Homo sapiens: one gene and its partners. The protein of the gene in region 2 purifies or fractionates together with the protein of the main gene of each other region. This does not show direct contact. Each region holds a gene or a part of one and is shown on either strand. Other genes may lie near its edges. The genes, in order: AP3S1, BTBD8, COBLL1, KIRREL1 and ZC3H14.

Region 1 (4,698 bases), on a different chromosome or scaffold from region 2:
AAACTGACAATTTGTTTAAAAACCACTTGTCAAATGAAAGGTGACATTCAATGGCAAAGTATTTAAGTGAACTTATTCAGAGACTAGGTGAATTAAGGTGGCTGTTTTCTTCAGAAACATCAAGTAAAAGAAGCCAGTGCTTAATTTCAGTTCATTCATTCATTAAACTATTCTCTGAGTAACTACTATGTGCCAAGCACTGGTAGTGGGGAAGAAGCAACAAACACACACATCAGAACATCATCAGATAGTGGCAAGTGTTACACTGACAATCAAAATACAATGATGATATATTGATGGGTTCCCTACTTCAGGCTGAATATTAAGCAAGAGTGGCATTTAAGCTGAGATCTAATGATAAGGAGTTGGCTTGGAAAAAATTTAGAGAAGAGCATTTCAGGCTAAGGTAGTAAGTACTAAAAGGACATTTCATCAAGAACAAAGTATGTATGTTCAGGGAAGAGAAAAAAGGCCAGTAGATAAGAAAAGATTAGTAAATGATAAAGTCAGAGAAGTAGGCGGAAATTAGATCATGGGGCATTTGTAAGTGCTTACTAGATTTAACTCCATACGTCACAGTAAGTTACACAGCTTAAGACTGATTATCAACCAGAAAAAAAAGAAGAATGACACTTCTTAAGTTTTGGATAGATTTACCGTCAAGATCTCTTCCAAAATTACATTGTTTTGACATAAATGCAAGAAAACTGAGCTAAGATACTAAACTCTTTCATGAAATACTTTTATTTATAATGACTGGAATTTTAGTATTTTAGAAATAATAATTTAGGAATCATTCCAAACATATTTTTCTAAATATAGTTTAGCTATTTCATAGTTAAGTTTACAATAATGAATTCACCTTCTTAAAAGACCCCTAAACACTTACATAATTTACAATCAAGGCTATATGTAACCAAAATTAAACTAACATCCATCCCAACAGAATATGGGAAAATGGCATCTCTCCCTCCCTCCCTCCCTCCCTCCCTCCCTCCCTTCCTTCCTTCCTTCCCTCCCTCCCTCCCTTCATCCTCTCTTTCTCTGTCTCTCTCTCTCTCTTTCTTTTTGAGACAGAGTTTCACTCTGTCACCCAGGCTGGAGTGCAATGGTGCTATCTCAGCTCACTGCAGCCTCTGCCTCCTGGCTTCAAGCAATTCTCCTGCCTCAGCCACCAAAGTAGCTGCAATTACAGGCGCACACCACCACACCTGGCTGATTTTTGTACTTTTAGTAGAGATGGGGTTTCACCATGTTGCCCAGGCTGGTCTCGAACTCCTGAGCTCAGGAGATCTGCACGCCTAGGCCTCCCAAAATGCTAGGATTACAGGCGTGAGCCACTGCGCCTGGCCAGCATCTATTTCTTACACAGTAAAAATAATACTAAACTTATAAGTTCTGTAGAAACAACTTCCCAAGGTATATACTACTTCTATGTCTTCTAATAGCAAAAGGAGAAATGATCTTTGACAAGAATAAAAATTTCCTACTATGCTAGATACTCTTCTAGAGAAGATGTTTAATTTAAAAATATCTACATGCAATTTAAAGATTCTGAGAGTATATTTACAGACTATGACTGCAATTGTTCCCTGAAAGAGGCAAAAAGAACACAAATAGGAGGCTTTACTCCATTCTGAATCAGCGATTTAGTGATTATCTTAAAACTTTTGCTTTACTTTAAAAGGACAGCAAACTTCTGAAGAATATAAGTTTCAAAAAGGCCAGTAATGCTATTAAAAGCAAGCAAAATATTAATGCGGCAAGTACATATTTTGCCTTTAAAAATATAATCTTATCTTTAAGCTATAGTATAATACTGACAAAAATTCCTGTACAGAATGTAATACATCATATAAAACCACAGGACTGAGAAATCCTGTTAGTCCAAATAACTCATTTTATAGAGGAGAAAACTGAGGCCTGAGAATTTAAGTAACCTGTCCAAGGAAATCAGCTAGTTAGTGACAAAACTAGGATTAAACTAGATGTGAGGCCTCATCTCTGCTGCAATATTTGCTTTCTATTTTTTGTAAGGTTAAAAAAGAACAATCACAATTTCCAGCCACAATTTCTAATTCAAATAGCACCCTAGTAAGATTAATCAAGTTCTTACATGCAGTGCACTGTGCTGGGTGGTAAGTTTCCTAGGAGATAAGAAATCAAGAGGCTAGGATGAGAGGAAGTGATAGTAATGTCAAAGACAACTAAAATTAAATAAGTACAAGTAAAATTCAAAAACAGAAGCAGGTACACTTGTCTCAATTATTAAATTAGAAGCCTTGAGTTAACAGCAAAATTTGTAAGTATGTATTGGACATTTAAGGACAGCATGATATAATCTTTCAGGAAACCCAAGTTAAGTGTTCCACATGATAAAAAGTACCTTATGACCATGGATTCCCTGTTATCCAGAGTATTTCTCATCCATCATACACAGTAAAATACAGAAAATTCTAAGTTTCTCTGACTGATTTATGTTTGAGAACAAACCATTTTCATGGAAGTTATTAGTTTAAAAGTATTTGTTTGTAATATTTGGCAATATTCTTATTCATTTTAAAAATAGAAAAATTGATTAGCTGAATTAGGTATATTTGAAAAACAGACTTCAGTCTTGTAACAGTAAAATAAAGAATGTAATCTAATTTTTATGAACATTCACAAAAAGGAATACTCTGTAGTCATTAAAAAGAATAAGCTTGTCCTAGATGTGTTTCTATGCAAAGCTTTTGAAAATACTGAGAACCAGCAACATGCAAATGAGCATACAAAGTGTGATCTCATAAATAAAAATTTTAAGGTTGTAGGTTAGTCAACACATATAACATACTTTATATGTTAGTCAATACAAACTATTTTCTAGAAGGATACACAAGAAATTGGGTAGAAGGACTAAGGTTGAGAGATTCTTATTTTACATTTTATACTTCCCTGTAATGTTGGAATTTTTACGATTTAATATATTACCTTTATATAAAATTCCCTTCCAAAATTTTTAAGAGGAAAAAAGATTGCATATCTTTTAAAAATAATTCTTTAAGTTAGATTTATAGCTAACATAGGTGGCAATTAATTCACCTAATCCAATTAATCAAAAGTAGAAAACTTTTACCATAAACTGATTAAACAGTATATATTTTAATCACATAGTCAAAACTTAGAAATGTCTATGAAATGCTTTACTTACAATCCTCCTTCTAGGAAATTACAAACATTTTCATCTCTCTTAGATACCAAATGGAAAGTCTCCCTGATGATTTGCTGTTGTGTATCTTCACTCTGAGGAAGAATAATTCATATATATTAGGATGGAGTGTATAGGTTTAATAGCATTTTAAGAATTTTTAAAATCAAAGGTAGCAATATCTGTCTGGGAAATCCATCTAAGAGAGGGGTCCTTGGAGAAGTGACTTAAATTATACCTTACAGAAGCAAAACCCAGTATTTTTTGATGAAAAAGAAAAAAAACCCAATTATTTATATTTACCACTATAATAAAAGTAACACATTTCTAAGTTTCAAAAACCAACAAGAAAAAATATTAGATGAATTACATACACTGGTAAAAGGGAAACTAGATATTAACTAGTCAAAGCTGATTATCTTACAAATGAGTAAACTGAATCAGAAAGGTAAAGATATAAATAGTGTAGCTAATCTATATTTGAATGGAGGAAAGAAATAGAACTATGGAGCTTCCAATTAAGTTTAACCTTTACTAAATATAGACTGAGGTAAGAGTCCATCCATCTTACTCATCTTTATATAAGCCGATCTAAAGCCAAGGATTGGGTCAATAAACATTTATTAACCTGGACCAAGCAATTCATATTCCAGTAAGAGTCAGCGTCCTGGCCGGGCACAGTGGCTCATGCCTGTAATCCCAGCACTCTGAGAGGCCGAGATGGGTGGATCACAAGGTCAGGAGATCGAGACCATCCTGGCCAACACAGTGAAACCCCGTCTCTACTAAAAATACAAAAATAGCTGGGTGTGGTGGCACGTGCCTGTAATCCCAGCTACTCGGGAGGCTGAAGCAGGAGAATCGCTTGAACCCAGGAGGCAGAGATTACAGTGAGCTGAGATCGCGCCACTGCACTCCAGCCTGGCGACAGAGTGAGATTCTATCTCAAACAAAACAAAACAAGAGTAAGCTTCCTAAACACTGCAATAGAAGACTGACCAAAATCATGAACACCAATTTCACAGGAAAGGATGTGAATGGTCCACAAAGAAATGAAAAGATACTAAATCGCAGTAGTAATTAAGTGAAATACAAATTAAAACAATGAGATAGCTCCACATGTACCATATCAGCAAAAGTATAAAAATATGATAGTAAAAAATGTTGACAACGATGTAGAGCCAAAGAAACTCTCATCTCACCAGTGGGAGGGTAAACATATAATCACTTGGGGAAACAGTTTTATTAACCAGCACTTTCTCTCCTAGATACTAATCTAAACCATATGAAACCAGTTTTTGAAGATCAAAAACAATTGCACATTGGCAATTACATAGACAGTTGACCCTTGAACAATGTGGCAGTTAGGGATGCTGATCCCCCATGCATTTGGAAATCTATGCATAAGTTTTCACTCCCCAAAAATGTTAACTCCACTACACTTTTTCTCTTAACAATTCTTAAAGTAAGCTAGAGAAAAGAAAATGTTATTAAGAAAATCATAAGAGAAA
Region 2 (5,365 bases):
CAGCATGTCATCAGTCACCAAGCCTATCAATTGTTCCATTTCCACTGCCATTATGTATCCCTGGACTATAAAATCTCCCAGCTGGTCTCCTTGTTTCCAATTTTCCTTTCCTTAAATTCCAGATTCAAAATGTGTTAATTCCCTATTTTAAAAACACCGATGGTTCTCCACTCCTTCTAGATACATCACAAACATTTCACTGGAGAAAGAAAGCCCCTGTGATCCAGTCTTAGTCTACCCATTCACCCTTACCTACTGTCACTTTGATTGCCTGCCATGCAATCTCCTTCCGAATAAAGCTACCAAATTTATTTATTACTTATATGTGGCCCTGGTTTGTACCACATGCCCCTACATCCTAATCACATCTGAATGGACAATGGGCTAAACCAAGGTTAGCCACTGGCCAATGCAGTAATCAAGCAGGAGAACTTGAGCAAAGATGTTCTATAATAAACATGAACCAACTGATGGCACTGAAGAGCATTCTTAAGCAAATCTATGGTAGAAAAAGAAATGGGTAAGGAGAGAAGAGGAGATGAAGGTACAAAGTTAACTGGAAGATCAGTTTACTGTAGAGGAGGCAGACTGCTTGGGTTCATATTCTGGTTATGTGACCCTGGGCAAGTCATTTGAAAGTCTCTGGAGCCAGATTGCCAAGGTTCTTATTCTGACTCCACCACTTTTTTTTTTTTTTTTTGAGACAGAGTCTTGTTCTGACGCCCAGACTGGAGGGCAGTGGCTTGATCTCAGCTCACTGCAATCTCCACCTCCCCGGTTCAAACAATTCTCCTGCCTCAGCCTCCCAAGTAGCTGGGACTATAGGTGCCACCATCATTTCTTTTTTAACATTCAGTTTCCTCTTGTGTTAAATGAGAATAACAAGACTTACCTCACAGGATTCATGAGAGAAGTAAGTAAAACATTTCATGTAAGCCCAGTGTATAGCAAATAGTAGGATGGCAATAAGTATTAGTGTTTTTTTTTTACCACTGCCCTGAATAACAGTCCATTTGTCAATGTGGTCTTATTGTATGACTGTTACCATATCCCAAACAACTTTCCAGTTCTACATTGGAGCTGGCTTTTTGACAGCTAAAACTGTCTCCCACTTTTCCTCACTTCTCTACATATCTTGTCACGTCAGGTAACCTAGGAGTGTCTCTGTTCCTTACTATTTGGCAGAGTCTAATACGACTTGCTTTCTCAAAATCAATCAAGCTCTTTCAAATTTCTGTGCTTCCATAAAAGTTATTCCCCTTGTTTAGATATCCTCTACCTCTCCCTTCCCAATCTTTACCTAATCAATTCTTAACCAATCCCTAAGAGCTCACTCAAATGTCACCCTATAAAGTCTTCCCAACTCACCCCACCACAACTATCACTTTTATTTAGCCATTTCCTCTCTCACTAGAGTGTAAGGACAAACAACAAAGCAATGTTTTATTAACGTTTATTACTTAAGACCTAGTACCGGGCTAGGTACGTGGTCAGTGCTAGATACTTCATTAGTATTTGTAGAATAAATAAATGACATTGCTATGCTTGGAGAAAATTAATTTAGTATAGCATTTAAGGTGGTTGGGTGAGCATTTTGTTTTGTTTTGTTTTAAAAAAAAACCTTGCTACATCTATTTTTCTTTGTTTATAATAAGAATTTGAGAGTTCTGAGTCCTACCCTCAGTTGTAACTAAGATAAGGATAAATTGTTCACTAGCAATACTTTAACCTCATTTTCTTCATATAAATTAGATGTGTTACCCTAGAAACGTTAACAACTTTAGTATTATTTTTTCCATCTTTTTCATCAGTCCCTCCCTGGTAGAGACAAAGTAGCTTCCCCAGTAGATAGTCCCAAATTAAAGGGATTTTTTTTTTACTTTGATAAATTCTGTTTATAGCTATCGGAGCCTTAAGTATGGGTGAGTTTTTGACAGAAAGCACTTCAAAATGTAGAATCCTGGCTGGGCGCAGTGGCTCACGCCTGTAATCCCAGCATTTTGGGAGGCCGAGGCGGGCGGATCACTTGTGGTCACGAGTTCGTGACTAGCCTGGCCAACATGATGAAATCCCGTCTCTACTAAAAATACAAAAATTAGCCGGGCGTGGTGGCGCGTGCCTGTAATCCCAGCTACTCGGGAGGTTGAGGCAGGAGAATGGCTTGAACCCGGGAGGTGGAGGTTGCAGTGAGCCGAGATCGCGCCACGGCGCTCCAGCCTGGGCGACAGAGCGAGACTCCGTCTCCAAAAAAAAAAAAGTAGAATGCTGCACAACTTTTAATTATTAGTAATTATGTTTACCTCAGTGGTTCTCATAGTCACCCTAGCCAGCAGCATTAGCATCACTTGGGGCCTTGTTAGAAATGGAAAATTTCAGTGATGCCCACCCAAGTTTAAGAATCAATGTCTTGCTGGAAATGTAAATTAGCTAGGTCATATTTCTAAGCTTCAATTTCTTTGTAAGCTGAAATTACTTTAGCTGGATTCCCAATAACCCGAGAAGGATATCCATGAGGCTTACAAAGGTTAAATGTCAGGAAGACCCTCCATTTGCTTTGGTCCTCACAGGAGCTGAGAGTTGCTGGGAGCTACAGAGAGCTCTAGGTGGAGAGAGGAATCCAGGTCGCAATCAGGAAGCATTTCTGGTAAATTGTTTAAAGAGACCTCAGAAGAGACCTCCAAGACTATAGTATTGTTCTTTCCTCATTTCAAATAATCGTTTTCCTAATTTTATTATTTTTCTTAAAATAGTATAAGCTTATTTTAAAAATTGTGTAAGTTTCAGGACCTGGATCCACCCGACCTTAGTGATTGGAAACAACTAAGCGTGCCTGTGTTGAGATATTTCTAGCAAACTAGTGCTGCACACGACTAAGCTTTTTTTGTTTTCCTTTTGAATCTGGTACATGGTGTCGAGGTGCTCGGGATTGTTTATTCAGGGCGAGCGAAGCCACTTTTCGGAATAGTGGGGAGACTGGCTAACGACCCGCAGTCGCCTGAGGCGAGGAGAACCAAGTGCTGAGGGAGGGGGAGGCAGAGCCGAAAGAAGCCTCAGCTTCGGGGCGGAGGTGGGCGATTTAGGAACTGAAGCAGCCAGAGTTCCCGCCTCCTCCTACCTGAGCAAATCCTGGCTGAGCTGCTCCGACACCGTCGCCTTCAGCCGGCGCCGCTCACACGGCCCCTTCCTTTGCAACCCCTTACTGCAAACTCCAGCGGACCCCAGAAGTACCATGGGGGCCGCACTGCCTTCCCCACAGCGAGCCATGTCTCACAGAGGTACGACGCCCTGGAGGCCCAGTACTTGGCCTCACTTGCCCCGCCCAGGAGGAAGAAGGGGGCGTTTCCGACCGAACGCTCGGCTCCTACCCAAATCCGCCCCCTAGGGTAAAAGGTTGACGCCTCTCGTCGGTTTGTAGACAGTCTCCCAGAGAAGCCGGACCGCGGTGGGGAGCCTCAGAATCCCAGAACCGAGCCGGCTCTTGACCCAGGAAGAGCGTGCGCAGGCGTACTCGCTCTGTTTACTTCTGCCGGCGGGCACCCCGCCTCCCATGGCTCAGGCGCGGACCATCCCGCGGGGCAAACCAATCCTCAGGCTCCTTATCCCCTCCCCTCTTCTTTCCCTTCCGGTTGGTGTTCATTCATTTCAATGTTTTACTGAGGCTCGAGTTCAAATCAGCACATGCAGCCTTTCTATGCTGTGTCTTCCTGACAGGTCTACACTTTTTTCCAACGAAAGACTGGGCGAGTCACACCCCCTCACTTACCTGGCTTCTTAACCCTGAGGTATAAATGTTTGGGGCAAGAAAAATTGGCGATGGGAGGAGTAGGGGAAGAACTTCATAAACTGCCAGTCAGAACAATTCTGAGTTCAATATAAGAGATACTTACAGCATCTAGAAGGCCCCATCCCCTTCTTATCCAAGGAGTGGCTCATACAAGCTTTTGGACTTGATCGGAGAAAGCACAGGGCTTTGCATATAAAGCCCTAACATTTATGACCAAGAAGGGAGAAATAGGTAAGGGGCAAAGTCTTTGAGCAGTGAAGTGATGGATGGATGAAATATAGAATTCTCTTTTGTCCCAAATAAAGTAGCAAACTGATTATCATTTAAGGTTTTGGTATTTTTTATTTGATTACTGCCTCCAAAATAAGGAAACTCAGTAGTTCCGCTTCGGGCCGGGCAAGTCCCATCTACTTGGGAAGCGAGGCGGAATGATGGCTTGAGCCCGGGAGGTCGAGGCTGCAGTGAGCCATGATTGCACCACTGCACTCCAGCCTGAACAGCACAGCAAGACCCTGTCTCAAAAAAAAAAAAAAAAAAAAAAATCTGTTTCATTCACAAACTCTACACACAAGGTGAAGAATAGTAATTGCTTGGAAAATACATTGGCCAGGTTGCGGTGGCTCACACCTGTAATCCCAGCACTTTGGGAAGCCAAGGCGGGAGGATCACTTGAGCCCAGGAATTAGAGACCAGCCTGGGCAACATAAGGAGACCCTGTCTCTACCAAACAAAAAAAAAAAAAAAGGAGGCGGGGAGGGGAATATATGGACTTTGTATTTGTACCATAAGATTGGCCAAGAGGTAACCATTTCTTCAGATAATGCCCCCTCTCAAATATTCAGACATCTTAATTCTGAAAAATATAACTGGATAATTGATTTTTTAAAATTAATTCCCAAATGCTTGGATGGATAATTGATTCTTAATTATTCCTGTAGAAACGAGGGGTGTCAAAGATAACATAATAGTAGCTTATATTTGAATCCTTATTATGTGATAAACGCTACTCTATTTGCTCTGTGTGTTTTAACTCAGTTAATCCTTACAACAACCATTTAGCTAGGTACTGTCTTCAGACCTATTTACAGATGAGGAAGCTGAGGCATACAAAGGATAGGTAAACTTGGCCAAGGTCACACAATGTCATATATCACACTATAATATATGGTGTGTTACACCATAATAATGGTGTATTATAACCCAGGCAGTATTTATATTTTGACTGGCAAATTTAGTCAATTTACATATACTTTTCGTAGGAATGTAAATTGGTGCAGCCATTATGGAAAACAGTATGGAGGTTCCTCAAAAAATTAAAAATAGGACTATGACATGACCCAGCAAACCCTCTTCAGGTATATACCCAAAGGAAATGAAATTAGCACCTCATAGAGATATCTGCACTTTCATGTTTGTTGCCCCATTATTCACAATAGCTAAGATATGGAAACAACCTAACTGTCCCTAGGATAGATTAACGGATAATGTTGTATATATACAATGGAATATTATTCATTCTTAAAAGAGAAGATCCTGCCATTTGTGACAACATGGATGAAGCTGGAGGACGTTAAGTAAAAT
Region 3 (4,698 bases), on a different chromosome or scaffold from region 2:
GGCCAGTAGAGGGAGAAGGTATCTTTTATACTATAGTGACCCTCTACTCAAAAGTGACACTGACATTGACAAACTTACAAGAAGGTGATTTAGATAAGGGTAGGTAAAAAGGAAAACAGAATAAAACTACTTTAAGAATAATAGACATTATTTACTTTAAAAAACAACTAGAGTTGACAAAAGTCGTAGCAAAACAAACCATATGCAAATCAAAGTACTACGTAAATGTACTTGTGACTCTGGCACTAACTTGACAACAAAAGTCTTAACAAAAATGATACAACTTGACTATTGTTTTAAAGAGAAAGAAGCAGCTTTTAAATCATAATTTCTCAATAGGAATGCTATTGCCATCACAGTACATGCTGTGAAAAACTGACTCAAGTGGAAAAGAATGAAAAAATTATTTGCTTTTAGACCTTCTCAGTATGATATCTCACAATGGTATTGAATGTGGGAGAAAATGAATCAGTAGCACACATAATCAAGTTAATGAACACATACCACACACATACAATTATATATATATATAATTATATATATAAGTATGACATTGCGATTATCTATGTCTTATTCAAATATGAATACTACATCCTAAGTTTTCTAAATATCTTAACCTAGTTTTCTAGATTAACATAATAGATTGGACTATGAGAATTCATAAGCCACTTCCTTCTTAACCCCTTAAAACACCATTGAGTATTTTTTGAATTTTCTATTTGCATAGGATTGTTTTTCTGAAATTCAATACTAAGTACATATTTTATGAGTATCTCAGGATTCTGTTAGGTGCCATGAGTAGTGCAAAGTATCACATGTAATTTATCTGATCCAAGACTGCCTAATTCAGTTGAGGAATCATAAATATAGAACCGCAAAGCTTCTAATAATCAAGTAAAAACATGAAATGATATGATTTGGATAAAAATTGAATGGGTAAAATAGATGAAAAATTGTCTTTCAGACAAAGACAACATGAATATATGCCTTATGATATAGAAATAAGCAAATGACATCATGAGAAAAAATAAGTTGTGCTAATATGAGGATGGGAACTGGGAAACAGTGGTAAATAAGGTTATATTATTAGATGATTTGGGCCTTGAAAAATCAGGCAGAAAAGTTTCATCCAAGGAAGTTAGATGGAAAAAAAGAGAAACAGATCGCAAATAGATACACAGAAGAAACATTTTTAAGATCCAAAGTCTAAATTAGATAATTTCTATGTTTTAACAACAAAAGTAGTACACATGGTAGTTAAGGGCACACTCTAGAGCAATATTGCCCCAGTTTAAATCCTAGGTTCACCACTTACCGTAGTAGTTGTGAGACCTCAGGTGAGTTATTTAATATCTCTGTGGCACAATCATCTGTAAAATGGAACTAAAAATAATAGTACCCATAATATCCATAAATGAGGTAGGTATTAAGTGAGTTACAGGAGATTAAATGAGTTAATACATATAAAGTGTTAAGAACTGTCCTTGGCACATAATAAAAGTAAGAAAGTGTTGGCTATTAATTTATATAACTCACCATTCTCTTGGTTTGGGCCCAACGACTTCAAGTTTCTTATACTGTCAACTACCTTCTTTCCATTGCTTGTATCATATACTACACTGTGTGGTTCTCTGGAAGATACGACATTGTATGTTATATGTTGATACTATTGAAACACACACATACACACACACACAGACACACACACACACAATGAGAAACAGGCAATAATTTCCAAAGACAGATGGACTAAAATAATCATTTATTTCTGCCAAACATCGGAAATTTAATAGCAGAGAAAAAATATAACTGAGAAGAAATGCTGCTATGAAACATTAGCTTTCATGTGGTGGTCCCATTAAAAAGAAAGAAGCTTGGTAAAATAGACACTTTTCCAAAATAGTGGCTTTATTTTGCTATTATCATTTATTTGCCTTTTAAAGAAAAAGGAAATTAAATGAAACATTTTAGTTTTTCATCTGGCAAGGTCAACTATATAAATAAGAATGTAGATTGACCTCACTGATCTTTTTTTCCCTTTGGTGGTAGAATAGTTTAATAAGGAGACAATCTCATGCAAATTATAATAAACGTCTGACATATATGGTTTATTTTGCTTGGTTGATTTCATCTTTATCCATGTTGTTGCATTTCAAACCTAAGTGGACTAGACTATAGCTGTCTGTTTCTAGAATAAAGCAGAAAGTACATTCTCTGTTTCATAAAGTTGACTGCAAAGATAATACTCGTGATTTAACATCATATTCTAATATGCATAATTGTTTTCATATACCAGTGAAAATCCACCAGGAATACTTGGTAAAAATTGAAAATTAAATATTACATATAGGTCACATAGGTTAACAGGCAAAACACCCACAAAAAGAAAAATTTTCATTTTTGAATCACACAAACTATTTCTCATGGTTTATCTGACACAGGGATATTAGAACTGTCACATTTGATTTTCTTTGAATGTAATTACATGCAAATAAGTACTTCATTAATAAACATTCTTATATAATGGTAAAAAGGATAAAGTCAAAACCAAAGGGCTGACTATATTTATGTTTAAAATATCAGATCTATATTTCAGAAGACTAGTATTAATTAAACTAACGGCCACCAACACTCCAGCACAGAGACTACTTACTGTCCATCTGTGCTTTTAGTTTCTTGTTTTTCTTCCATGGAGTTTTGTGAGAACTCTCCACTACCATTGCCAAGGGCTGAGTCAGGATCATTTTTCAGTGTATTTATTATATCAGTAGATACAAAAGGAATATCTTGTGACTTCGGAGAAATATTTTCAGCTTCAACTTTAGGCACTTCACTCAGTTCTTCCTTTTCATCTATCTCTTCAAGGCTATAATCAGAGCTTATTCCAGCTACAAAGAAATGCAGATATAATCCTAAATATTAATTTGCCTCATTCATCACATGCAATTCTGGCAAGGAAGGAATTTTGAAAAATAATAATTAGCTGGACTCTTTTAAATTCTGCCTCAAAAATAATAGTGAAGTTCTTTCTCCTGGTGAGCAGTCACGTTAACATAAAACCAGATTATCTCAGACTCATAATTCCCAAAACAATTTGCTATCACTCTAGGTTTTATTCATGGTAGAGACAAGAGGTTATTTAATCTCATAAACTTTAAGTTAAATATTTCATTTAAGAAATGTCTTACAATTGAATGGTTTTTACACTCATCCAGCAACTCAATAGTGCAAATTAAAGGCAAATTAATAATTTTAAAAGTGAAAATGAAAAGCACATGAGATTTTTGTATTGTCTACAAGGGCACTCATAAAATTTGACTCAATAGTTATTAGTACCAACTATACTTGAGAATTACCTGAGCCCCCTTTAAAAATATTGAGGCTCACACCCTACTCCACAAAATCAGAATCTCTGAAGGGTGGGGCAAGGGATTTTTAAGACTACTTAGATGATTCTACTATGCAACCTCAGTTAAAAGCCACTGACCTAGATGCTTAATTTGTGAAAATACAAATAGAGCAAGTATTGGACAATGAAAATTAAGTTTTATTCCTAACCAGTTTGATTCTCAGAGGCAACTTGCTTTAACAGTTTTTCCTGTATGTCCTGAGAAAGTGTAATATACATACATAGGCTGATAACCATACTCACGTTTCCTTTTGTTAGTTTATTTAATATAAATGGAAGCATACTGTAGCCACCTAGCTTTTTTTCCACTTACAATATCTTAAATATCATCCATATTAATATATATGTTTACACATAAATATTTTCAATAGCTGTGGTTAACATTTCACTGTATAAAAAAAATGTATTTTATCACCAACAACCAGTAGCCAGCAGGGTAAAAGAGAAGGAGGCATCCTGAGCAGTTAATGTTCATGCTTATTGTCAAGATTAGCCATGGAAGTAAATGTAAGCCAGAGTGAGGTTCTGGATTTTTGCTAAATATAATTAAACATTTCCATATACACCACAGTATCTGAATGAAATTTAATTTTATCCCAAGGCTGGGGATGTGGTGGGAGGGGGGGGCGGGGTGGGGAGGTGGTGTAGCATCCAATTATAGTAATCAGCACATTCAGAAAATTTAATTTAAATTTTTAACATAATTCAATATTTAAAGTACTTAAAATATATTTTTAAAATTTTATCTCTAAGTATACAGACAGAAAAGTGTGCTATTTGTGCTCTTTGAGAAATAAACATGAGAAATTTTAATGGTATTTTTATCATTAATAAAAATAGATTACTCAATAAAAAATATTTTAAAATTTAGGTTTAAGTGAATATTCAAATGTACATATTTTGGCAAATGATGCTTTATTATGATGTGAAATAGAAATAATGTGTCTACGATAGCATATTGTATCTATGTGTTAAGAACGTATTTATATAATTTGAAAACTCTAGGCTGGGCGTGGTGGCTCACGCCTGTAATCCCAGCACTTTGGGAGGCTGAGGAGGGCGGATCACAAGGTCAGGAGATCGAGACCATCCTGGCCAACATAGTGAAACCCCGTCTCTACTAAAAATACAAAAAAATTAGCCAGGTGTGGTGGCGGGCGCCTGTAGTCCCAGCTACTCAGCAAGCTGAGGCGGGAGAATGGCGTGAACCCAGGAGGTGGAGCTTGCAGTGAGCCGAGATCACGCCACTGCACTCCAGCCTGGGCAACAGTGAGACTCCTCAAAAAAAA
Region 4 (4,257 bases), about 66 Mb from region 2:
CCACCCTTATGGATGGGTCTGGGGGGCGACATTCCTGGCCAACCCCTTGTAGGAAGGACCAGATAATACCCAGGAAGCAAGTAGCTCTAATTTTAACTTCACAGGAAGTCTGTGCATCCTCCTTCATTTCAGCAGGGAAAACTCCTGTGGAGTGGGCCCTATCTGGGGCATTTACAGGCTTCCAGCTGTATTCCATCCCTGGAAGCTGATACCTTTCTATAGAGTCCTTTTATGAGAGCTCAGTGGGAAGGTCTGTCAAGAAATTCAGGTTCTTGTACAGACAAATTCATGCAAATTTCTATTATTTTCACAAAAACCAGAAACCATGGGGGAATCCAAAGACTTGAAGTCTAAAGATGGTGGCTTTTAAAACATGCATATTCCAAAAAGAATTCATTTTTGTTTTGGGTTTGGCTAGATTCTCTTATTTATCCCCTTTTAGCTTAAGTATTAGTTTCATTCTACTGAAATGATGGAGAGAGGGCCTAAGGTTACTAGGTAATTGAGCTGATGGTGCAGGGAGAATTGTTGAGAAAGGAAGCCTAGTTTCCAGAAGCCTGACACAGAGCTACTTCACTGTCCTCTACTCCTTAACAAGGTAACTGGAGCCTCTTGGGTGTCAAACAAGCACCCTGGAAGGCACAGGGAAGCATCAGCAACCAAGGTAGTCTCTGCCCTCTGTAACTTACGTGTTGGTGCATCAGAATCTGAATTGGAACCTACCTGATGGGCCCAGTGGAATAGCTTTTCTGGGGAGTGGAAGGCGTCCTTGATCACAGAGCTTTGCTGTCGAATCCTGGAGTCCTGCAACATGGTGATGCCTCAGTAGTTGGTGATCCTGATCACCTTTGGTGGCTTGTTTTAGTGGAAAGAGCAAGGGACTAAAGGTCAGGAGACCCAGGACCCAGTCCTGAAGCTGCAAAGGTTAGATCTCGGCCTAACTTTCTGTTCATTGCCCCCAATTTGTCTGGCCTGTAAAATGAAGGGGGAGGGTTGCATAAACCTAAAACTATTCTGGTTTTGTTATACCCATAGGGTTGGGGGTAGGGATGGGACTGCCCATTGCTGGCAAGGAACTGGGAACAGTAGCAAGCATGGTGAGGGCTGGAGAGCTGGCTGGGGGGGTTCTCTCCTGTTCAAAGAAGCTTTCACCATGGGCTTCATTATCTTGTCAGAAGTGAATTAGTTTCCACCAGGGACCCCTTTATCCCAAACAGCAACACAAAATACACCCTAAACCTCAGAGTAAAATTGATGTGGGGCTATCCTTTGGCTATCGGGTCATCTGTGCTGCTCCCCACTCATTTCTGATGGGTTTGCAAAGGTGCCTTTTGCCAGGGCAGGACATAGTATGCACATAGGGATATTGTTATGTGCCTAGGTTTCAGGCACTCCTTCTGTAGGGGAAAATGGGAGGAGCCTTCCTCCACCCTGATCCTTAGGAACATTCCTCTGGCCCAGGGACAGCTTGTTCTTCTCACCAAACAGGTGAAGCCTGCAGTCCAAGGTGCCTGGAGCCAGAGGTCGGGGAGTAAGCACAGCTGCCCCTGCCTGAGAAGGAGCAGCTTGCAAGGGGAGCCGGTGGAGGGAAAGGGGTACAACAGCTTTGGAATACATTCTGGATCTTGAGGAGGATCTTGTGATTTTGGCTGAGCCACGGTCACTTCCCTCGTGAAGGACCCGCCCTATATCCTAAATTCTGGATCCCTCAAAGTCCAGCCACAGAGTTTGCATGAAGCAAAAAGCCTAGTAAGTGAGAAAGGAAAGGGGCCAGGGATGGGAGCAGTGCTGTGCTGTTATCACTGTCTTGCTTGGAATGAAAACATCTGAGCACCCTGTCTTCAAGCGGTACGCTCTCCCCTTATTCCAGCAGGGCTACTTTCCTCTTCACTCTGATGAGGGGAGCTTTATCTGCTTTCAAAATGGAGCACGTCGCACTGGAGTTTCGTGCCCTCTCGTTAACCTGTCAGGAGCCACAGGGCTCCATAAAACGGAATCAGTGTCTCAATATACATGACCTATGTTCATAGCAATGTTCAGCCATTTGGGTTTGAAGAAAACCACATTAAAGCCAAGACCCGTTTGGAGCGAACTGCCTTGTTCTTTGCTGTGTGGAAGGTTCTGTCCCTACTGCTGAACTCCAGTTCCTCCCCAAGCACCCTGGCCTCAGAAATCCTGGCTTCCCCAAGTTAGTGCTGTCTGACCTGAGCCAGGCCACTGCTTGGTGCCTCTACAGGCCACTGTGCATGTTGAGAATTGCCCAAAAGGATTAGTGAAGCTCCTGACCCTGGCGAGGCCATAATGAACACTGAAGTGCACAGGCCAAGGGATGTAATTGAAAGGCATTTATTTTTGTGAAGATGCTGTAAAATTAGCATTTAAATATCCCATTCCCTTCTCTTGGCCTCCTCCTATCCCCCTATGGTATTTCTCCTCCTCTCCTCAAGGCCAGGCTTTTTGTGAAAGGCATTGGCTCATCTTTGTCAGCGTGGTCCTGACGTTCACCTCTGGGCTGCTGGAGAGGACTGAGAGATGTGTGGTTTGGTAGGAAGGGGGTGTGTGTGGGGGTTAGTGGGGAATCCCATTTTTTTGCATCACTGTGAGGTAGCTTCAGGCCCTGTCCCTGGAGAAATAATTGCTGCGCAGAAGTCACAGGCCATACTGGGCAGTTCTGGTACAAACCTGCCCTTATTAATAATAACAATAATAATAATAACTCCATTTGCATAGAACTGTCACTCATTCCTGCCAGTCTGCTGTCCCTACCCTGGTTTTTTGCTGGCCCCAACCACTGGCCTTGTTGAGTATCGATGGGCCCTGAGCTCTTCTGTTTGCTTTTGGAGCTCTTCAGATGCTGTCCCCCCTGAGAATACCCTAACTCTGGGGAAAGAGCAGCCAAAATCCCAATACAGTAAAACTCCACACAATCTTGTTAGCAACAGTGACCCAGAAAATTTTGAGAAGTCCAATTTCACCAGAAGAGGCCCAGGGCTCCCTGTGGTCACATTTTCTACCCAGCCATTCTTGGCATTGCAACCTCCATTTCTAGCTCCTGTTGAATTTTCTCCACCCAGACCCCAAAAATAAATGGATCCATGATGATAATTAAGAGAAGAGAAAAAAAGATATTATTTTTGTTAGGACAAACCATTGTAGGTTTTTAGCAATGTGTATCTGTGTGTCCCTCACACCTTTTCCTATTCTACTTTTTTTTCCTTTTTTTAAAAATATTATGTACTATATTTTTAGTCTCAAACACACTATATATTATATATATTTAATTTTTTTATATATATAAATATAAATGTTTTAAAAAGTACCATGTTTTGTGTTATTTAATGCATTAACGGCTAGTTACTTAAAAGCCTGCCTGGCTTTGGGTGTTAGTCCTGGTTTGGGGAAAAAACAGGTTTGGATTGAAATTGCAGAAGCAATGTTTGTGCCACCTCCAGGCCGTGGGGCAAAAACGTATTCTCTAGTTTGCCACTTGTGCAGAACCCTGAGGCCAATTATGGCAGTTCAGGGACAAACAGCTGGAGGCTTCTGCTATTGGAAAACAGCATCCAAATGTTCTGTGCCAAATCGCATTATGGGAATGGGAAAAGGGGAGACTTTTGAATCTGAGATCTAGATCCCAAAGGAATTGGGACAAGTGTGTAAGAATGGCTGGTTTTGTTTATTTAAAACGCTGTGGTTTGGGTAAAAAGCAAAGTTACAAGGTCTCCAACCTTTTGAACTTGTAGTGAAGCAGAATGAAAAAACAGATGGTGCAGCAGTGCACACACACAGAGGCCATCCTGCTGAGAAATCCTAAATTCTCTGAGTTGAGTTCCCAAGGGTTTCAGTTTGCTCATTTCTCAGGAGTGTTTGCAGATACCTGAAATAGTTTTCAGATAATGTTTTGTTTTATTTTGTTTTGGACTTTTATTTTGTTTTGTTGTAGAGGCTATGTTGCCCAGGCTGGTCTTGAACTCCTGAGTTCAAGTAATCCACCCACGTCGGCCTCTGGAGTCGCTGGGATTACAGGTGTGATCCACTGTGCTTGGCCCAGATAATGTTTTTTAAAGCTATAAATCATTAGAGAAATAGGGTTTATTGTTTTCTTCATCCAGTTAACAACGAAGCAAACTCAAGACAGTTTACCGTAGCCTTTTTTGTACACAAGGGACACCCAACATAGTCAGAGAGGAAGACAGGATGTAAGAGCTGAAAAAATACTTTCGAAATAATGCAACCCATTTCCAAGAGGGCTAGAAG
Region 5 (4,698 bases), on a different chromosome or scaffold from region 2:
AAAACAGTAATGGATTTTGAAACATTTCCTTGAGTAATCCTCTTCTTGGAAGAGATATGAAAATGTATTGAATACCTTTCTCGATCATTAAAAATAGAATAGACTTCAGAGGGAAATCATATGTTAGTGGAGCAATAACACTTAGCTTTATTTTAATTGGTTGCGTTTCCTACTGTGAATCAATGACGTAGTGTCGTGGTTTTGATTAGTGGAGGGAGTTGAAAATCTGACCCTATCAACAGGAAGAAAAACTTAAAAAATAGTAAAAGCTGCAGTAGGCAGTCCCGATTTATTGACTCTGTATGTTTTGTCTAAAGAGAAGACTCCAGTGTTTTCACTACTCTTGATTTTCAATTTGGTACCTTAATTTTTTGGTCTATTAGGATCTGGTTTCATTTAAATGTAGGTGTCCATATGAGGCTTTATGGGGTATACATGTAGCAGCAGTGACACCATAAATAATATGTTAGTAAAAATTCTTGCCAGTGCTGTGGCCATTGTGCTGACAGCCATGATGAGTGGTGAGCCTCCTTTCCCATTGCTTTGACTGGGGACTCAGTGTTTCCCTGCTGCTCAAGGATGAAGCTTTGTAAGATTAGCATAGGGGTGTGGCTGGAGAGACTCCTGCAGAACAGTTCTCAGGAGTCTCTAGTCTCTGCACCACTTCCCCTGTGAGCAGGGAGTTTGAAACTGCAATTGCTTCTGGTTGGTTTTATGTTGGGTTGTTTCAAGGATGCTACCAACAACAACATCTGTTTTAACCTGCTGTCTTTTCACTCACTGTCATATGGCAGCACAGATTTTATAGCTTGCTTTCTTTGTTTTTTTTTTTTTTGAGATAGAGTCTCTCTGTCCCCCAGGCTGGAGTGCAATGGAGCCATCTCAGCTCACTGCAACTTCTGCCTTCCAGGTTGAAAGCCATTCTTCTGCCTCAGTCTCCCAAGTAGCTGGGATTACAGGCATGCACCATCACACCTGGCTAATTTTGTAGTTTAAGTAGAGACGGGGTTTTACCATGTTGGTCAGGCTAATCTCCAACTCCTGACCTCAAGTGATCCACCAACCTCGGCCTCCCAAAGTTCTGGGATTACAGGTGTGAGCCACCGTGCCTGGCCTATAGCTTTCAATAAAAGGTGAATTTGCCTCTTAAAATTTGAACAGAAAGTTTTAATAGTTTACAAAGTCGGTGTCAGCCAGTGAAGACTAGGGGCATGACCTTCGTATGACTTAATGTTTTTAAAAGAAAGATAAAGTTTCTTTGTAAGGTATTATTGTAATAATCACATTTCTTTGTAAAGTATTATATTGTTCCTGAGTATCTAGCTACTTTGCTTTCCAGCTAGGCTTCTCTTGGGTATTCTCTTAATCTTTTATTTGTACTGGGTTCTTGTGTATATATTATAGTCTGCTGTGTGTAATTTATTATAGGAAAAGGGTAAGACACATTTACTTTGCGGGGATGACACAAAAAACCTGTAAAAATTAGAGAAACTTCCAGTCATCTCACATTTTCTTTGGAACCGATTATTCTTGTATCTTAGAACTAAAATGACTTATACTGTTTTGTTTTTAGAAAGGGTATCCCTCCTGTTGCCCAGGCTGGAGTGCATTGGCACAGTCATGGCTCACTGCAGCCTCCACCTCCCAGGCTCAAGTGATTCTCCCACCTCAGCCTCCTGAGTAGTTGGTTACTACAGGTGCACACCACCATGCCTGGCTAATTTTTTGTATTTTTTGTAGAGATGGGGTTTCACCATGTTGCCCAGGCTGGTCTGAAACTCCTGAGCTCAAGTGATCTGCCCGCCTCGGCCTCCCAAAGTGCTGGGGTTACAGGCATGAGCCACCACATCCTATTTAAAGCTTAAATAGGACTTTTACTATTTTTAAAGTAGCATAGAAAACTGTTTGTATCAGGCATAGTCATAATTGCTCTTTGATGCTGCTCCTATCTGGGCTGCATGACTACATTTGTGTGCCTTGTTCTCCTGTAGTGAGGACAGAATGTGGGTCACTGGAACAGTAAGTACTCATAGAACTAGCTGCTGCTGCTATTACGACTGGTTGCCTGTTTTGCATTTTTTCCGTTTAATCATCAGACTCTAAGGAAGACATTATTTTCTCTTTGTATAGATGAGGAAACAGAATTCCAAAAAGTTAGCTAACATTTGCACAGAGTGTCTGGCTGAGCAACTAAGTGGCAGAGTCAGATTTTAACTGACCTCTGGCAAGAGGACTAGAGGAATACAGTTGAAGTGATACTTGCTTTCATGAACATGAATGTGAACCATAATACATAATACCCATGATGCTATTTTGTGGGGAGTTTAAGGTGTCTCAGTCCAGAAATTAGCAGCTGATTATTGCCTGTAGCTGTAATTTTACTTATTCAGTGTTATTTAATAAATTGCCAGCATTACAATTTCGATGAAGGCAGATTTTTGGCTTACTGAAACAGGATAAAAATCTGGCAACAGGGGTCCCACTTTGCCCTGTCATAGTAATCGAAGCTGTGATTGGATGTGGCACAGGGAGTGGAGTGGATGGGTGTGCACTTGCTTTCCAGGCTGCTGCTCCCCGTCTGTCCCTTATTGCATTTATCATCTTCAGCCCAGTCAGTCTTGCTGTTAGGGGAACTGCCCAGTCTCTGTAAGTGATGGCATTTGTGACCCCATTGTAGGTAAAAATGTTTTCCCCTTTTTAGACATTGCTGGCTGAGCGCGGTGGCTCATGCCTATAATCCCAGCACTTTGGGAGGCCGAGGTGGGTGGATCGCTTAAGTCCTGGAGTTCAAGACCAGCCTGGGCAACGTGGGGAAACCCTGTAGCCAGGCGTGGTGGCACGTGCTACTTGGTAGGGGCTGAGGTGGGAGTATCACTTGAGCCTGGGAGGCAGAGGTTGCAGTGAGCCGAGATTACACCACTGGCACACCACTGTACTCCATCCTGGGTGACAGAGCAGGACCCTGTCGTAAAAAAAAAAAAAAAAAAAAAAAGTAAAAGACATTGCTGAGTTTCGCACCTGGACTTACAGCTCAGCAGGTGGGAATCCTTTTGTATTTGGGCCACTCATCATCTTGCTGGCGTGTGAGGATTCACATCTCCTTATCACCTTACCTGTTTTCAGTTTTTATTTAATTTTATTAGTTCCCCACTTGACGTCCTTCTCTATTTTTAATTCAGCTATGAATTAGTATTGAGAATTAGAATTTTTGGTGAAAAATTTGGCCGTAGTTGCAGAGTCACTGTCCTCTTTCCTTTTCACAGTGAGAACTGTTGTCTTCTTCCTGGCAACCTTTTATAGGATTCTATGGCCAGTGTTAATCCCATAATTTGAGCTCACTTATTTTATATGACTGTACATTTAACAGAAGATTCTAAGACAGGTTTGAGGGAAATATGTTAAAGGTGCTGTGTACTGAATTGATCATAATGAATGAAATACTTTTATTTCCTTTCCCTTTGTAGCTGAGATGAGTGAACTGAGTGTGGCACAGAAACCAGAAAAACTTTTGGAGCGCTGCAAGTACTGGCCTGCTTGTAAAAATGGGGATGAGTGTGCCTACCATCACCCCATCTCACCCTGCAAGTGAGTACCATCCCCCCATCTCACCCTGCAAGTGAGTACCATCCCCCCATCTCACCCTGCAAGTACCATCCCCCATCTCACCTGGCAAGTACCATCCCATCTCACCCAGCAAGTACCATCCCCCACATCTCAACCCTCAAGTGAGTACCATCCCATCTCACCCTGCAAGTACCATCCCATTTCACCCTGCAAGTACCATCCCCCATCTCACCCTGCAAGTACCATCTCCCCATCTCACCCTGTAACTACCATCCCATCTCACCCTGCAAGTGAGTACCATCCCTGCATTTCACCCTGCAAGTACCATCTCATCTCACCCTGCAAGTACCACCCCCTCATCTCACCCTGCAAGTATCATCCCCCATCTAGCCCTGTAAGTGCGAGTACCATCCCCCATCTTACCCTGCAAGTACCATCACCCACTTCACCCTGCAAGTACCATCCCCCACCTCAGCCTGCAAGTACCATCCCCCACCTCAGCCTGCAAGTACCATCCCCTATCTCACCCTGCAAGTACCATCCCCATCTCACCCTGCAAGTATCATCCCCCACCTCACCCTGCAAGTACCATCCCCCATCTCACCCTGCAATTGAGTACCATCCCCCATCTCACCCTGCAAGTACCATCCCCCATCTCACCCTGCAAGTGAGTACCATCCCCCATCTCACCTTGCAAGTACCATCCCCCATCTCACCCTGCAAGTACCATCCCCCATCTCACCCTGCAAGTATCATCTCACCCTGCAAGTGAGTACCATCCCCCCATCTCATCCTGCAAGTACCATCCCCCATCTCACCCTGCAAGTACCATCCCCCATCTCACCCTGCAAGTACCATCCCCCATCTTACCCTGCAAGTGAATACCATCCCCATCTCACCCTGCAAGTGAATACCATCCCCATCTCACCCTGCAAGTGAATACCATCCCCCATCTCACCCTGCAAGTGAATACCATCCCCATCTCATCCTGCAAGTGAATACCATCCCCATCTCACCCTGCAAGTCATAGCCAGCTGATTTTGGCTTTCAGTTTAGTGTCTGTATCTTACACCTTATTTTGTTTTTGTTTTTCTGTGGACAAGTTTTTAGTTTTATAACTAAATGGAGTGACAA

Evidence for each region.
Region 1: the proteins of BTBD8 (region 2) and AP3S1 purify together in Homo sapiens (affinity purification with mass spectrometry; one large-scale study listed by BioGRID and IntAct). This does not show direct contact.
Region 3: the proteins of BTBD8 (region 2) and COBLL1 purify together in Homo sapiens (affinity purification with mass spectrometry; one large-scale study listed by BioGRID and IntAct). This does not show direct contact.
Region 4: the proteins of BTBD8 (region 2) and KIRREL1 purify together in Homo sapiens (affinity purification with mass spectrometry; one large-scale study listed by BioGRID and IntAct). This does not show direct contact.
Region 5: the proteins of BTBD8 (region 2) and ZC3H14 purify together in Homo sapiens (affinity purification with mass spectrometry; one large-scale study listed by BioGRID and IntAct). This does not show direct contact.

What each region holds. Positions count from the first base shown.
Region 1 is NC_000005.10:115,865,254-115,869,951, reverse strand, and holds part of AP3S1 (AP-3 complex subunit sigma-1), read right to left. Parts: intron 3,283-4,698; coding exon 3,191-3,282; intron 1-3,190. UniProt on the Homo sapiens protein: Part of the AP-3 complex, an adaptor-related complex which is not clathrin-associated. The complex is associated with the Golgi region as well as more peripheral structures.
Region 2 is NC_000001.11:92,078,471-92,083,835, reverse strand, and holds the start of BTBD8 (BTB/POZ domain-containing protein 8), read right to left. Parts: upstream 3,492-5,365; 5' UTR 3,265-3,491; coding exon 3,116-3,264; intron 1-3,115. UniProt on the Homo sapiens protein: Involved in clathrin-mediated endocytosis at the synapse. Plays a role in neuronal development and in synaptic vesicle recycling in mature neurons, a process required for normal synaptic transmission.
Region 3 is NC_000002.12:164,697,869-164,702,566, forward strand, and holds part of COBLL1 (cordon-bleu protein-like 1), read right to left. Parts: intron 2,889-4,698; coding exon 2,654-2,888; intron 1,632-2,653; coding exon 1,537-1,631; intron 1-1,536.
Region 4 is NC_000001.11:158,096,944-158,101,200, forward strand, and holds the end of KIRREL1 (kin of IRRE-like protein 1 isoform 1 precursor), read left to right. Parts: 3' UTR 1-3,319; downstream 3,320-4,257. UniProt on the Homo sapiens protein: Required for proper function of the glomerular filtration barrier. It is involved in the maintenance of a stable podocyte architecture with interdigitating foot processes connected by specialized cell-cell junctions, known as the slit diaphragm.
Region 5 is NC_000014.9:88,603,779-88,608,476, forward strand, and holds part of ZC3H14 (zinc finger CCCH domain-containing protein 14), read left to right. Parts: intron 1-3,464; coding exon 3,465-3,585; intron 3,586-4,698. UniProt on the Homo sapiens protein: RNA-binding protein involved in the biogenesis of circular RNAs (circRNAs), which are produced by back-splicing circularization of pre-mRNAs.